Linked DNA regions of Homo sapiens: region 2 is linked to region 1. The links come from fine-mapping of genetic effects on gene expression. Tissue or cell type: skeletal muscle. Region 1 holds a variant in brackets; the other region holds the start of a gene. All regions are shown on one strand. Distances are between the middles of the regions.

Region 1 (8,102 bases):
TGTCAGTAACTCAAAGAGCTGGAAGGAGAGCCCGAGTGCATTTTCCACTACAGGTCTGTCAGGGGCAAGGAAGAACGTGTCTAGATTACAGTGCTCCCTAAGGGAACTTTTTCCAGAATGATATGCATTAGCCACGCATGGCTACTAAGCACTGGAAATGTGGCTAGTGCAACTGAGGAACTGAATTTTATTTCATTTTAATTAACATAAATCTATTTTTTTTTTGAAACGGAGTCTCGCTCTGTTGCCCAGGCTGGAGTGCAGTGGCGTGATCTCGGCTCACTGCAACCTCCACCTCCTGGGTTCAAGCGATTCTCCCGCCTCAGCCTCCTGAGTAGCTGGGACTAAAGGCGACTGCCACCATGCCCAGCTAATTTTTGTATTTTTAGTAGAGACAGCGTTTCACCATATTGGTCAGGCTGGTCATGAACTCCTGACCTCTGGTGATCCACCCGCCTTGGCCTCCCAAAGTGCTGGAATTACAGGCGTGGGCCACTGCGCCCAGCCATTTTAATGAACATAAATCTAAATAGTCACATGTGGCTCGAGACTACCATATTGGACAGTGCAGATCTAGAAAGAAGGTATGCAGTGAATGGATATACGAGCTGGGGCAGGATGTTCCAAACAACAGTGTGTCCTGTGAAGGCCTTGGGAAAGACAGCAGGTTAAGAGTGAAGGGTAGATTAAATTGGATATGTGTTTCCAAGCCCAAAGCTGGCACTGCAGCCTGAGATGGGGAAATAAGGGGACAGGGATCTCCGCTAATTTTTATCCTAAAAGATTTGTCTTGGGCTCCCATGAGCCTCCGAAGAAACTGAAGCAGTTTCTGGCTCTCCAGCGTGTTCACTGTCTGCTTCTCTCTACCCTCAGCTCAGGGACAGAGGAGGACACAGAGGGCTGGGCCATTCATCCCCTCATTCATTCCATACACCCACTTAAAAAGATTTATTAAATACCTTCTATGTGTTAGGCACTGCGGCATTGTATAAAATCTTAAGGAAATTACAACCCAACAGGAAAGAGAAACTCAGGAAGACAGAGTGGTGGGCACGGCAGGAGGATGTGCCAAGTGTAATCTGCAGTGGCCACTTATTTTGCCTAGGGGAGGCGGAATGCTTCCTAGAGCTCCAATTTGGTCTTGGGTGATGGGTCTTGGAGGATCTCACCGAGAAGTAGGAGGCAGGGCCCTCCATGCAAAGGGACTAACAGCTCCACCACGGGGCAGACGGCTCACTCGATCAGTGGTGCCTGACAAGACTGAGGAGGGCAGCGTGGCTTGGGGCCTGGGGTTGGGACCAAATCATGCGGGACTTGGATCCTCTGGGTGATGGGAAGGCTACAGGGGATGTCTCCCTTCAGGCAGAAACAGGCACCAAAGGGCCTACGCTAGAGAAGGGAAGGGAAATGAGGAGCTTACTGTAATAGTTCAGGCCCATGTGGGGTTGGCCCAGGCTGCTTCCTGGTCTTAGCCTGCGGTAGAAGCCAAGATAGACTGTCCCCAGGGCCACAGCCACCTGCCAGGCCTGGACCTGGCCTCCCCACCATGATCCCCACCCGGGTAGAGGTGGCTGCAGTGCAGATGGGCTGGAGGACTATAAATAGCCAGGGCGCATACATTAGCATGCCAATGCACCCGCACCCCATCCTCTATGCTAATGGCCCACCATGCGCCTGAACACCTTCTGTTCCCCTGCATGCATTTGCATGCACAATTAGCATAATCTTGTATAATTAATGAACAGCGTCAATTTTAGCTCCTAAGTAATTTGATTAACATGTTGATAGGGCACTTACTAGGCTCTCCAAACCTCAGGGCTGGGCATGGGGCCTGAGGAGAAGGGGAGGGGGTGTGGAGAGACTGCTAAGGGGCCCCCAGCTGCCCACCAAGAGTGGCAGTGGCTCCACTTTCCCCAAACCAGGCCTGAGGGGAGAGGAGGAAGGGTGGAGTGGCCACTAATGGGAGGCCTCTGGGCATGCCACATGCAGCGGCAGGAAGGGGCTGGTGCATGGTCACCATGGTGTGCCTGTGTGGACACAGATGTACACATGCACCCACACAAGTCCTCTCAAGCCTGGGGAGTCTTCTGTCAATGCAGGCTATCAGAGTCCACGAACAGAAGAGAAGGAGAGATAGAGAAAAAGGAGGGAGGAGGGGGGATGGGGCATGGACGGCAGCAGAAGCCACAGAGCTGGAAGGGGTGCTTGCAAGTCAGAAAGAGATTTAAAGGAGAAGGTGGGAGTCTGAAGGAAAGAAGTTGTGGGTTCCTCTGGCCTTGGGCAGAGGTGGTGGTGTAGATGAGACCCAGGCTCTAAGACCAGAGACCTTGGCACCTCTTATCTATGAATCAGGTGAGAGGTGGGTAGCGGGTATTAGCAAGGCCTGGCATCTTCTACAATTCACCAAGCACCCAGGGCAGAGAGAACAGACAGAAGATTAAGTGAGAATGTCCCCCTTCCTATTCAGAGAAAGACCCATCCCCAGCCTGGGATGTCTACCCCTGACTGTGGGCTCTGGTTCTGGAGGCAGGACGTTCCTCCTTGGTTCCCACTGAACTTTTTTTTTTTTTTTTGAAATGGAGTCTCGCTCTGTTGCCCAGGCTGGAGTGCAATGGCGCGATCTCGGCTCACTGCAACCTCTGCCTCCTGGGTTCAAGTGATTCTCCTGCCTCAGCCTCCTGAGTAGCTGGGACTACAGGTGCCATTTTTTTTTTTTTTTTCACATTTTTAGTAGAGACGGGGTTTCACCATGTTGGCCAGGCTGGTCTCAAAGTCCCGACCTTAAGTGATCCGCCCACCTCGGCCTCCCAAAGTGCTGGGATTACAGGTGTGAGCCACTGCGCCCGGCCTGAACTTTCTTGCTGCCGTCCAGGCTCAGCTGCACTTACTCTAAGATGATCGGTAAGGGTGGGGTGGCAGGAGGGTAAGAAATGACTCTGAGGCAGTCACTGTGCTGGGCACTGCATGAATACATCCTACTAACTCCACAGCATCCTCTCCTTCCCAGAATCACAGGAGGCTCATTGGTCAGCTCTATTTTACACATTAGGGAACTGAAGCTCTGGGAGGTGAGAACTTGCTCCCAGTTACATAGCCAGACATCCCAGGTTGGCTTGAGTCCCCAGCCCTCAATAACTCTCCACTTTGTGGAGAAAGCTTATTATTCAAGTTGCAGGCGGTTCACTCACTAGCCGCCTCCACTCCACCTATTATGGTTCCCAGGCTGCCTCATGCCTGCGGTCCCCCTCTTCCCCCAATCTTCTTTTCTTTTCTTTTTTTTTTTTTTTGAGACGGAGTTTCGCTCCTGTTACCCAAGCTGGAGTGCAGTGG[C/T]GCGATCTCGGCTCACTGCAAGCTCCGCCTCCCGGGTTCACGCCATTCTCCTGCCTCAGCCTCCCGAGTAGCTGGGACTACAGGCGCCCGCCACCACGCCCGGCTAATTTTTTGGTATTTTTAGTAGAGACGGGGTTTCACCGTGTTAGCCAGGATGGTCTCCATCTCCTGACCTTGTGATCTGCCCACCTTGGCCTCCCAAAGTGCTGGGATTACAAGCGTGAGCCACCGCGCCCGGTCCTCTTCCCCCAATTTTCTATGGAGGCACTGTCCAAATCTCTGCTCCTGTCTCAGCATGGAGGCCAGTCTGGCCCTAAGCTTGGCTTCGGCTGCCCAGAGGTCTCCTCATAAGTCCTTCCTCTTCATTAGGGGTCCTTTGTCCTTATGACTGGCATCTCAGCCTATATGACCTTCGGAGCACATGAGCGAATCTCTCTTGAACCCCCTCTGCTTCTCCCTCTCTCAAATGCTCTCAGCTCTGAAAAGAGTGGTGGGGGTTGGGGGGAATGGGGAAGGAAGTGCAGTGCATTCAGGTGGCAAGAGGGAAACCTTAGTCTCACCTCAGCACTGACCCAGCAGGGAGGTTCTGGAACCTCAAGGGGGATTGCCAGAATGGATCTGGACAGAAGTCTGTGCTTGCAGCATGAGTGTGGGAGATCCTGCTGGAAAGCGTGGAAGGAGATGGATGACATTGGGCTAGTTTTGTGGCTGTAGAGGAAAACAGGGAATGTTGCATTGACCAGTGGATTAGGAAGGGGGCTGATTCTTTTGCAGTTCCCACAGCCCCTTTCATCTAATTGCACTTATAATGTGCCTGATCTAGGGTCTAAATTTGCCCCCAATAGAGTAGACCAGAGCTTACCTTTGCCAGGTGGCTCGGACCTAAACTATTCCAATAGTGTCACTGAACAACACCCACCAGGCAGCAGGCACAATTAAATGCCAGGGAGTATCCATAGCCCCCAGCTTCTATCTATCCCTAGGAGCCAGAGAAGAGCTATGAGCCTCCCATGGGAGGGTATGTTTCCCTACCCCTGCCACAGGGTCATCCTGGCCAATCAAGCAAATATTTAAAGTCTTAGAGCTGTGATGTCAGATACAGTAACCATGTGTTATTTCTTAAATTTGATTTAAATTAAACACAATTAAATATTCAATTCCTCAGTCACGGTAGCTACAGTTCAAGTGCCCAATAAATATGTGTGGCTATTGGCTACCATATTGGTTGGTACAGAATATTTTCATCATTGCAGAAAGTACTATTGGATAGTGTGGTCTTCAAGCCTTACATTGTTTTCTATTTCTTCTTATTATTATGTAATTATAGATAATCTCTACTGACCTTTCTTCAAGTACACGAATTTTTTTCAAAATTATAAATTGTTGTTTACATAATTATATTTGTCTCCTCAACTGCTCTGTAAGCTCTCAGAGGGCAGGGATCATTGTTTAAGCCTCTCTTCTCCCAAGCATCCATCATAGTCCCAGCCCCACAACAGGTGCTGATTGATTCATGATAGAATTCAAGAGTCAAAAATTACTGTGACTGGATGAATGCTGGACTAAAGCCCCCAAGGCACTTTTAACTTGTGCCCAGGTAAGAAATAACAATTACAGGGACAGGACTTTGGGAATTGCTAAGTAAAGACCTCTGAAAATCCATTCTTCCATAAAGAAACAAGAACACTGGCAAACATGGTCAAAATCAACTTTCTCAGAACTCTAAAAATTAACAACATGTGTGCAACAACTCAAGGAACATTGAGGCAAGAAAAATGGCTGAGTTGTAATAAGAACAGAAAGCTTTGTGGTGTTTTAATTTGCCCTATTCCCATCCCCTACTCCCCAGCCCTGTTGAAGACCAGCTACCTTGCAACCACTATTGTAGTTGTGAAAACTAGCAAGCTAGCAACCATAGGAAGGGGTAGAGTGGGTTTGGAGCCTCTCAACAAGCTGTATTCCCAGTCAGTTTTCACTCTTTAACCTTTCTAGCAACTCCCTGACAGCTTTATTTGCAGAACTTGTTATTTGACCCGATTCAGAACTTACTTAGTGGGAAAGACCCTATCTTCAGGGTGTTTGTTGAAAACAGCCAGCGGCAATTGCTTAACATTGCAGCTACATGAGGCAGCAATACAAGTTGGGGGCAAATAAAAGTTTGGCCATAATATTTTAAAGGAAAAAGTGGGGAATAAGATGTTCACAGGGGCTCTGAAAAGCTCTGACATATTCCTGGAGATCTAGAAAGCTATGCATATGTGCAGGGAGAGGCACATGCCCAAAAAAGGCATGGAAAGCCCCTGGTCTCTCACCTCTGGTTTATCCCAAGGCCCTGAGCAAGCAGGAAGTGAAGGTCAAGGCAGAGTTGTAAATCGCTGGAGCACTGAAGGCATGTCTTAACACACATACAGAACCTTTTGGCAATGGGTTGAACACTTATTGGCATTCAAGGCATTTAAAGAAATGCCTGTCCAATCATGGCCTGATAACTAAGCCAAGAGCAGAAACTTCAGTGATTATACATGACAGGAAATATAGACTTTATATAATTAGTCCAAGAAAATCACTAAACAAACAAACAGCAATAGCAATAAGAACAAAATTGGGAGGGAGGATCTGATTGCCAGAGTGCAACATTATATGATTAAAATGTCCAGTTTTCAACAAACAATTATGAGACATGCAAGGTACAGGAAAGTAAGACCCATACATTGTAATAAAGCAGCCAACAGGAACTATCCCTGAGGAAGCCCAGAGGTTAGAATTTTTAGACAAATACTTTATTAATTAATTTATTTTTGGAACAGGGTCTTGCTCTGTTGCCCAGGCTGAAGTGCAGTGGTGTGATCATGGCTCACTGAAGCCTTGACCTCCCAGGTTCAAGTGATCCTCCCACCTTAGTTCCCAAGTAGCTGGGACTACAGGTATGAGCCACCATGCCCAGCTAATTTTTGTAGGTTTTTGTAGAGACAGGGTTTCACCATGTTGCCCAGGCTGGTCTCAAACTCCTAGGCTCAAGCAATCTGCCCTTCTCTGCCTACCAAAATGCTGGGATTATAGGAGTGAGCCACTGCAGCTGGCATAGATAAAGACTTTAAATGAGCAATTATAAATATGTTCATAGAACTAAAGGAAACTATGTCTAAAAAATTCAAGAAAAGTATGAGAATGAAGTCACACCAAAAAAATCAATAAAGGATTTCAAATTATATTTTTAAAAACCCATGAAATTCTGAAGTAGAAAAGAACAATAAGTAAAATTTAAAAATACCTGGAACAAGCTTCTCTAACCTGCGACCCACGGGGCACATGCAGCCCAGGTTGGCTTTGAATTAGCCTGCAAATTTGTAAACTTTCTTATTATGAGATGTTTTTGCTTTTTTTTTTTTTTTCTCATCAGCTATCGCTAGTATTAATGTATTTTATGTGTGGCTCAAGACAAGTCTTCTTCCAATATGGCCCACGGAAGCCAAAAGATTGGACACCCCTGACCTAGAGGAACTCAACAACATATCTCATTTGGTGGGACGAAAAAAAATCAGTATACTTGAATATAGGCCAATTGAGATTATCTAGCTCAGAAGCAGAAAGAAAAAAGAATGAAGAAAAATGAACAGAGCTTAAGAGACCTGTGGGAGCCATCAAGCATACCAGTATATGTATAATGGGAATCTGAGAAGGAGAGTAGAGATGGAACAGGACAGAAAAATATTCAAGAAAATGCCCCTAAATTTCCTAAATGTGCTCAGTAATGAAAAACATTATTGAGCACATCTTAAGAAGCTCAGTAAACTCCAAGTAGTATGAACACAAAGTGTATGATCTATACAAAGACACATCATACTCAAACTTTTGAAAGCCAAAGAAAAAGAAAGGATCTGAGAAGCAATGAGAGAGAGAGAGAAGTAACTCGTCATATATAAGGAATCCTTAATAAGATCACCACATAACTTCTGAAACCATGAAGGACAGAAGGCAGTGAGATGATATATTGTGTTAAAAGAAAACAACTATCGACCAAAAAATTGCATGTCCAGCAAAACTATCAACTTCTAAAATGATCAACTTCAAAAATGAAGGAGAAATTGAGACATTTTCAGATAAACAAAAACTGAGAGGATTCATCACTAACAGGTTTGTCCTACAAGAAATACTAAAGGGAGTCCTTCAGTCTGAAATGAAACAAGACAAGACAGTAATATGAATTAACATGAACAGATAAAGAGCACTGGTAAAAGTCACTACATAGGTAAACATAAAAGACAGCATAAATGTATTTTTGTTTGTAATGATTTTGTTTTCCTATCTAATTTAAAAGACAACTGCACATTTGTGGGGATAGGGGATATATGGGAACTCTTTATAATTCCGTCTCAAAAAAAAATAAGAAAAAGAAAAAATAAAAGAAAAAGAAAACACAAAGCACAATGGCAGACATAAATCCTGTTCTATCAGCAATTACATTAAATATAAATGGATGAAATGCTTCATTAAAAGGAAGAGATTGGCAGAATGGATTAAAAAAGAAAACTACAACACAATCCAACTATATGCTGTCTATGTGAGACATACTTTAAATTCAAATGTACAAAAGGCTTTGAAAATAAAGGGATGGAAAAAGAGATAACATGTGAACCCTAACTGAAAGATAGCTGGAGTGGCTATACTAATTTATGAATAGACACTAAGATAAAAATTATGAGAGACAAAGAAGGACATGTTATAATGATAAAAGTGTCTATCATCAGAAAGAAATAACAATTATAAGCATG
Region 2 (8,096 bases), 440 kb before region 1:
TGGCCAGGCTGGTCTCAAACTCCTGACTTCAGGTGATCCACCTGCCTTGGTCTCCCAAAGTGCTGGGATTACAGGTGTAAGCCACCATGCCCAGCCCAATTTTTAAATTTTTTTGTAGAGACAGGGTCTCCCTATGTTGTCCAGGCTGGTCTTGAACTCCTGGGCTCAAGCCATCCTCCTGCCTCGGCCTCCTAAAGTGTTGAGATTATAGGCGTGAGCAACGATGCCGGCCACCAGAACCTTTTTTGGACATATTTCTTGGATGATGTTTTTAATATCTTTGTTATCCTTGTAATTTTATTTCCCAGAAAATGAGCCCCTTTATCAAGGTTTTCAGGGCCGGGCACGGTGGCTCAGTTCTGTAATCCCAGCACTTTGGAAGGTGGAGGAGGGTGGATCACTTGAGGCCAGGAATTCGAGACCAGCCTGGCCAACATGGCGAAACACTGTCTCTACTAAAAATACAAAAAATTAGCTGGGTGTAATGGTGCACGCCTGTAATGCCAGCTACTGAGACTGAGGCAAAAGAAGCACTTAAACCCGGGAGGCGGAGGTTGCAGGGAGCCAAGATCATGCCACTGCACTCCAGCCTGGGTGACAGAGCAAGACTCTCTCAAAAAAAAACAACTTGTGTGATCATTAATCAGCAGGTGACAAATCATCTTAAGCAACAACAAAACAAAACAAAACAAAGTATTGATTAGTTCACTGAACTGATGAACCTAGATACAAATAGTCTAATCTCAGCACTTTGGGAGGCCGAGGCGGGCGGATCTCAAGGTCAGGAGTTCGAGACCAGCCTGACCAACATAATGAAACCCCGTCTCTACTAAAAATACAAAAATTAGCCCGGCGTGGTGGTGGCACATGCCTGTAATCCCAGCTACTCAGGAGGCTGAGGCAGGAGAATTGCTTGAACCCAGGAGGCGAACGTTGCAGTGGGCTGAGATTGCACCATTGCATTCCAGAGGGAGACTCCATTTCAGAAAAAAAAAAAAAAAAAAAAAAAAAAAAAGTCTAGTTCATAGTTGCTCTGAAAGAAAGGAAGGGGATTGCATTAGTTATTCATTCAATAGTTACACACTATGCTAGAGTTTGTGTAAATTTTAAGTGAGACTCTGTCTCAAAAAAACAAAAAAGTTTTCATATGCATTGGACCAGAGTCAGATATAGATAGTATTCTCTTATTTTCCTGGTGTTCTTTTAAAGATGCAAAACCACATTAGTCTATGAAATAGGAATGGAGACTACAAAGAGAGATTAAGTTGAGATCAAGACAGAGGTGGAATGGAAATTGGCTGAAAGAAAAATAAAACAAGCAGAATCAAATGTCTTATTGGAGAAAATAAACAGTACTCTTGGCTCTGAAGAAAATTAAATCCGTAATGGTGAAGAAAAACTTGATATAGTCTCCCAGGGTGCAGAGAAAACAAACAGATTTATTTGACATTGGTGATCCAATGTGATAGTTTTAGAGGAGAGGAAAGAAAAAAACCCAAATCTTTTCACAGAATGGACAGGAAGAAAACTTTTCTAAGCTACAAAGAAGACCTCTTTTGTTTCTGGAAAATTAATAGATAAGGCCCATATTGATTTATACTGGCAAAATGTTTGACTTTTGAGGGTAAAGAAAAACCCTTGCAAGCACCAAGCAAACTGCTGACCTTAAACAGACAAACCCAGCTTTGCATTTTCAGTGCCAGAAGACAATGAAATAAAGACAAGAGTTTTGAGGGGGAAAGCTTGAGACTCAAGAATCCTATAAACAGGAAATCATTATAAAGGCATTCTCACCTAAGGCAAAGGCTTAGGAAATACAACATTCCAGAGTCCTCCCTGAAATCACCAGTCATGTGAGAGATGGGTCCAAATGAGGAATAGAAAAATTAGAGCACAAAAAACCGGCAGTAACATTGAAACCAATTAAACAGAGTTGGCAAAAGCCAAAAACAAGGATTGAAAAAGAATGTTGTGGCTTAAAAAAAAAGTGTAAACAAAAGTTAGGTCTGTCGTCCTGATTAAGTGGACAAATATAAGTAGTGAGGGCGGCAGGTAGGAGGCAGAAAAGCACACAAAATTTCTCATGGGGGAATATAAAAACGAATTATTTGTCACTGACTTTACTAATGTGTGAAATGTAAACTATTTTCATTTGATAAATCTAAAGGCAGCCGCGAGAAGAATTAAAAATACTTTCTGCCTTGAAAATCACGATAGAAGATAAAAGCAAATGTGGGAAAATTCAGAAAACAGGAATAAATAAAAACTATAGAATACGAAGTCGTAAGACCAAACACAACACCTATAAACAGCAGAGACGTAATGCGTTAAATCCCAGCCAGAGCAGAGGCGCTGCAGTTCTTAGGGCAGACCCTGGTGCCTCCAGGCTTTTGCTAGTGCTAAACTCTCGGCTAGGCTTGCCTCCCTACCCTATTCAAGGCTGAGGCCTCAATTCAAGGCCGACTCCCTCCTCCCGGCAGTCCTCCCGGGCCGCCCTAGGCTGAGTGAGCACTCCCCACAGTGAACGCTGCCCGCGCGGGCGAGGCCGGCGCTCCGGGTCCGGTACGAAGTCCCACCTCACTCCCTCTCACCCCGGGTTACAGCGTGTGGTCTGGGGCCACGCGTTACGCCAGGCGCGGGGCACAGGGTGAAAGCGTTCAATCCTGCTGGAGTGTAATGTGTATTTTTTCCCCGTCGCACCTTCCAGACGGTGATCCAGTGTGAGCAGCAAGTTTCAAATCGTCTCCGTTTGGTCACGAACGGAGTTTACTGCCCCTCGACGCCTCCCGCACGACAGCCCGTGGTCCTCGCGCCCGGGCGGGTCGTTGCTCGGCCGGGCGGATCCACCCGCGACGGCTCGTCCCGACCCCTCCCTAGCGGACTTGCAAGGTCTCAGGGCGTCCGCTGGGAGGCCGCGTCCCGAAGAGCTGGCGCGGGAGAGGAATGGGGCTCGGGGCTCCGAGTCGGGAGCCCCTTCCCCCAAGCAAGAGGGGCTCCTCCTCCTCTTCCTAGACGTGGGATTCAGGGAGGGCGCGGTTCCATTGGATTTGTTGCAGAGGAACGACTGGGCCTGAGCCCAAGCCCAAGGGCCTGGGGGGTAACGAGCGATGAGCAGAGGGGCTCGCGGCGGACTTGCTGCGCCCTAGAGAGGGTGAGGCTGAGGGGTCCCACGCGCGGGCGGGGCGCAGCGACGAAGGGGTTAAGGCGCCTCACCCCGCCCCAGCCCGGGCATTGGCTGCCCTGGGGGGCGTGGCCGGAGGGCGGGCTCGCGTTTGCCGCAGCCGCTGGTGGGCGGGGCTCGGGCGGGGAGCAGGAGGGGCGCGGAGCGGAGCCGGGCCCGCGCAGCGCGCCCCGCCGGGCGTGCTTCGGGCTGCGCCAGCAAGCGGGGCCGGTGGCGCCCGTGTCGGAGACCCCGCGCCGGACCCTGAGGCAGCGAGTAAGTGAGGCAGGCCCATCGTGGCATCCCTCCCGGCTCCGACCTGCCGCCGTGCCTGCTGCACTGCGCGGCATGTCTGACCTGACCCGGACTGGGTAGGGGGCGCGTCCCGCTGCTAGGGTCCCAAGGGGGAGGGGAGCGGAGAGGAGGCGGATGATGTCATGGATGCTTCGCCCGGCCTGGGGGGAGGTGGCGGCCAGAGGGGGTGCGGCTCGGATTATGTCACCTCTTCCCTCTGCGCCCCGCCCCCCGGGGCCACACGCGTTGGTGGGGAGCCTGGGGAGGTGCGGGCGGGGTTTCCCCCATCGCAGGGACTCCCAGGTCCTGTGGCCTGTGGCTGGGGTCTCTATCAGTTGGCTCTGCGGGCCGTGGGCTGCTGGTGAATGGCGACCCCCCCTCCCACCCCCAGCAGAAGCTCGTGTGTGCGCGCGTGTGTGTGCTCGGGGTGGAGGGGGCGCTCTCGGCCCCCTCAGTCCTGAAACACTGGCTTCATCAGAGCCAGTAGCTAGGTGATGGGCCCATTCCGCTGCCAGTGCTTAGGCCACCGAGGGAAGACGGATCTCCCCTCACTCATCCCAACCAAGAAGTTCTGGATATCTCTGCACCCCAAAAGCCCTGCAGTGCCCCCAGATCCCTTTCCTCCCTCAGTCCTGCTTCCTGGAAACCCCTCCTGCTCTCCCTGCCCGGATTCACTGCCTCTTTGCATTGCCCATAACTAGCATTCCCACAGGCATTTGCCCTGCATTTCCTTGGTGCAGGGCCCAGAGACCCCCAGGACTCTGCCCTCTGTGCTCCTGGGAAACCTATAGGCCAGCCCTGGGGAGGCCTCAGAGTGAAATCTCCCTGGGGTGTCCTCAGCCAAGTGCTCCAAGATGCCCCCTCTGGGGGGTGGAGATCAGGGATGCTGTCCTGAGGCCAGCCTTTGAACTGGTCTAGAAGCATGTAGGATGGGCACAGAGAGCTGGCAAGAGCTTGTGTGTGAAGTAGAGAGGGGCTCAGGTCAGGGTAGATAGAGGAGGGGCATCAGGAGAGTCCTTGGGGACCCTGCTGCAAGCTCTGCTCTGGTTCTGGGGACCAAGAGGAATACCAGGCATTTCACCCATCATACATTTACTTCTTAAAATGCCTGCAATGTAGGTGTGAGAACCCGAGGTGAAATAACCTGCATGAGGTTGCACCCCTAATCAGTCAAGCTGGGATTTACACTTGGAGCTGATGCTGCCAGAACTCTGTCTACTGCACTTGGTCTTGCTCATGGAAGGATTTGGACAGAGCAGGGGCAAGATCAGCTTTGCCCTTTAGAAGGAATCCCCTGGCAGCTGCCTGGGGGAGGGAGTGCAGGAGAAGAAAGTCCATTGAGGAGCCCCCAGCAGGGGTGCTGGATGGAGGGGCTGGCTAGAGATTTTTAGGAGATAGAATGGGCTGGGGTTGGGGCCTCTGAGACCCCAAGTGTTCCTAGCTTTGGGAGAGACACAGGTTGAGGGGTGGGTTGGAGGTACCTGTACATGTAACTGTCAGGTAGAGTCCGTTTGGCCCCCTCATGACGCTAATACTGTGTATAATGCCCCAGGCACTGAGGGCTGAGGTGACAGAGATCGAGGCAGTCAGGCAACAGGCTGTCATCTCAGGGTGGTGCACTGATGCCAGGAGGCTGCCTTTGCAGACCATGCTCAGTTACCTGGACTAGTTCAGGACCGTGACCTTTCCTCTCAGTTCAGTTCCTGCTTACCAGGGAAACATCCCCTTCCTTGTCCTGCCGGTGTCCTGCTGGGATTTTTTTTTTTTTTTTTTTGAGGGGGTATCTCACTCCGTTGCCCAGGCTGCTGGAGTGCAGTGGCGCAATATCACTGCAACCTCCACCTCCTGGGTTCAAGCGATTCTCATGCCTCAGCCTCCCGAGTAGCTGGGATTACAGACACGCACCACGACGCCCGGCTATCTGCTGGGATTTTGTGGAAAGAAGCTGCAGCAGCCAAAGCTTGGGAGAGACAAGGGGCAGGGCATGCTTGCAAGGGGTTAACCATGACAGGTTACAATTACGACAAGAAGCTCTTTAGGCAGTGAGGCTCCAGAGAGAGCTTCTGTGGGTTGATAGTCAAGCATTCCCCAGGTAGAGCACGGAGAAAGGAGGCTCAGGACAATGGTCCTGGGACCTTGTTTCCATCCACGACTCGAGGCATCTGAGACTTGCTAGGGACTACACACACTCTAGAGAAACAGTAGGGGAGAGTGGCCTATGACCAGCCCCAACCTATGCTCAGGTTGTCCTTTCCCGGATCTCAGAGAAGGTGTACTACATGTTTGTATTGCCCCTTATAGTTTACAAAGCACCTTCCCAAACATTATACCCTGTCACTCAAGGTCAACATGATCACTGTTGAGGTTTATTCCTGCCCAGATCCAGGTATCTGGTGCAGTCACCTTGCTATCCCCTTGCCTAGATCTTTCATCTCACTATTGGCAACTTCCCTCAGCATATTAACACACAGGTTTCTACCATGGTTAATTTTAAAATTAAAAAAGCCCTTGAATCTCAAACCTCCTTAAATAACTGTCTTCTCTTTTAGCAGGAACTCTGCCATGTCTTTCTCTGCACTCCTCTAGCCTTGTGGACTGCCTTTGTTTTGTACCACTTTTTTTGTTCTGTTTTGTTTATTTGTTTGAGAGGGAGTCTTGCTCTGTCACCTATGCTGGAGTGCAGTGGTGCGATCTTGGCTCACTGCAACCTCCACCTCCTGGGTTCAAGCCATTCTCCCGCCTCAGCCTCCTGAGTAGCTGGGATTACAGGCATGCACCACCACACCCAGCTAATTTTTTTGTATTTTTAGTAGAGGCAGGGTTTCGCCCTGTTGGTCAGGCTGGTCTCGAACTCCTGATCTTAGGGGATCCACCTGTCTTGGACCTCCCTAAGTGCTAGGATTACAAGCGTAAGCCACCGCGCCAACCTGTTTTTTTTTTTTTTTTTTTTGATGTAGTCTCGCTCTGTCTTCCAGGCTGGAGTGCAGTGGCATGATCTCGGCTTACTGCAACTTCTGCCTCCCGGGTTCCAGTGATTCTCCCACCTCAGCCTCCTGAGTAGGGGATTACAGGCGCGCACCACCACGCCCAGCTAATTTTTTGTATTTTTAGTAGAGACGGGGTTTCACCACGTTGGCCAGGCTGGTCTCGAACTCCTGACCTCAAGTGATTTGCCTGCCTTGGCCTCCCAAAGTGCTGGCATTACAGGTGTGAGCCACCGCATCCGGCACTTGTACCACTTTTCTGAAACCATTCTGACATAGACATTGGTGATGTCTCGAGACCAGCTCCTAAATCCGCAGCACACTCTCCAACCCCAGTGTTACCTGGCCCTGTTATTTTTAACACTGGAAACTGTCCCCACATTCTTGAATCCCCCCAATCTTGGCCTTCAGGGCCCACCTTCTCCTGGCCTTCTTCCTGCTCCCAGAGTGCCTTCCAGACTTCTGGGGCTTTGCTCCCTGGCTCAGTGCTGGCCTACACCCCCAGCACCCTTGAAAACTGATGATCTCAATCTCTCTCCATCTAGTGCTTTTTTTTTTTTTTTTTTTTTTTTTAAGGAAAGAGTCTCGCTCTGTCACCCAGGCTGGAGTGCAGTGGTGCAATTACAGCTCACTGCAACCTCTGCCTCCTGGGTTCAAGGGGGTTCTCGTGCCTCAGCCTCCCAAGTAGCTGGGATTACAGGAATGCATACCGCACCCAGCTAATTTTTGTATTTTTAGTAGAGATGGGGTTCCACCAATTTGGCCAGGATGGTCTTGAACTCTTGGCCTCAAGTAATCTGCCCACCTTGACCTCCCAAAGTGCTGGGATTACAGGCATGAGCCACCTTGCTTGGCCTCCATTTAGTGCTTGAGAGGTATCTTCCTCTGGTGTTTCCCAAAGCAACTATTTTCCCCAAGCAGTCTCCCCCTATCATGTTAACAGTGTCACACGCACGCTGGTGCCCAGTCCAGCATTATCCCTTGTCCCCACCACCTGACCTCATCTGTATGAAATTTTGCCAGTTCTTTCCCAAACCCTGCCCAGGCCTTCCTACTGGTTCCAAGCCTCAGGCCTTTCAGGCTTCATCCTCCCAGTCCCCAGCTGCTCCCCACATTGCACCCAGAGGTGGCAAGAGAAGGGTCCATACTTAAGGTAGGAGGGGGTTGCAGGGCTGAGGCATAGGGGGCTGGAGTATGCTGGGGAGTAGAGGCAGAGCAGGGACTAGAGTGAGGCCAGAGAGGGACCCAAGGCACAAAGGGAAGGAGGCTGTCACCCTCAGGGCTGTGTACTTGCTGTTTGTGCCCTTCATTTGTGCCCTACGTGGCTCTCTGTCCTCATCCTAGTCCTGGCCCTTGCTTATGGGGACAGACGGGTCCAAGGGAGGAGGGTGGCGAAGTGCTCTTCTCCACACCTGTGGGGACAGATGCTGAGAATGGAATTCTACAGAGACAGTGGACAGGCTTGGTAGTGAACTTTCCAACAACCTAGAGCTCTCATTCCTGGTGTGGGGGCCAGAAGACTCCCGAAGGACAACAGTTTTGTCAGGTGCCCTTGGTCTGGGCCAGGGACTCAGCATTAGAACTGGGCATCTGGGTAGAAGACGGTCTGTGGGGCCATAGGGTGCCACGTGGGCCCCTTAACTTGATAGGGAAGGAGG

Evidence for each region. PIP is the estimated chance that this variant, and not a neighbour inherited with it, causes the effect.
Region 2: it holds the start of LZTS3, and the variant in region 1 is fine-mapped to the expression of LZTS3 in skeletal muscle (GTEx, PIP 0.97).

What each region holds. Positions count from the first base shown.
Region 1 is chr20:2,732,436-2,740,537 of GRCh38, reverse strand. All of the region lies in intron 6 of EBF4 (EBF family member 4), which reads right to left. Among named protein-coding and RNA genes, the nearest start is that of EBF4, 44 kb to the right of the region's middle. RefSeq lists an enhancer at 1,395-1,976. The variant C/T (reference allele first, on the strand shown) is at 3,331.
Region 2 is chr20:3,168,795-3,176,890 of GRCh38, reverse strand. LZTS3 (leucine zipper tumor suppressor family member 3) reads left to right here and starts at 3,342. Exons shown (of 5, transcript NM_001365618.1): 1 at 3,342-3,436. LOC107985414 (a long non-coding RNA gene) reads right to left here and starts at 3,201. Exons shown (of 2, transcript XR_001754477.2): 1 at 2,701-3,201. RefSeq lists a silencer at 3,119-3,458.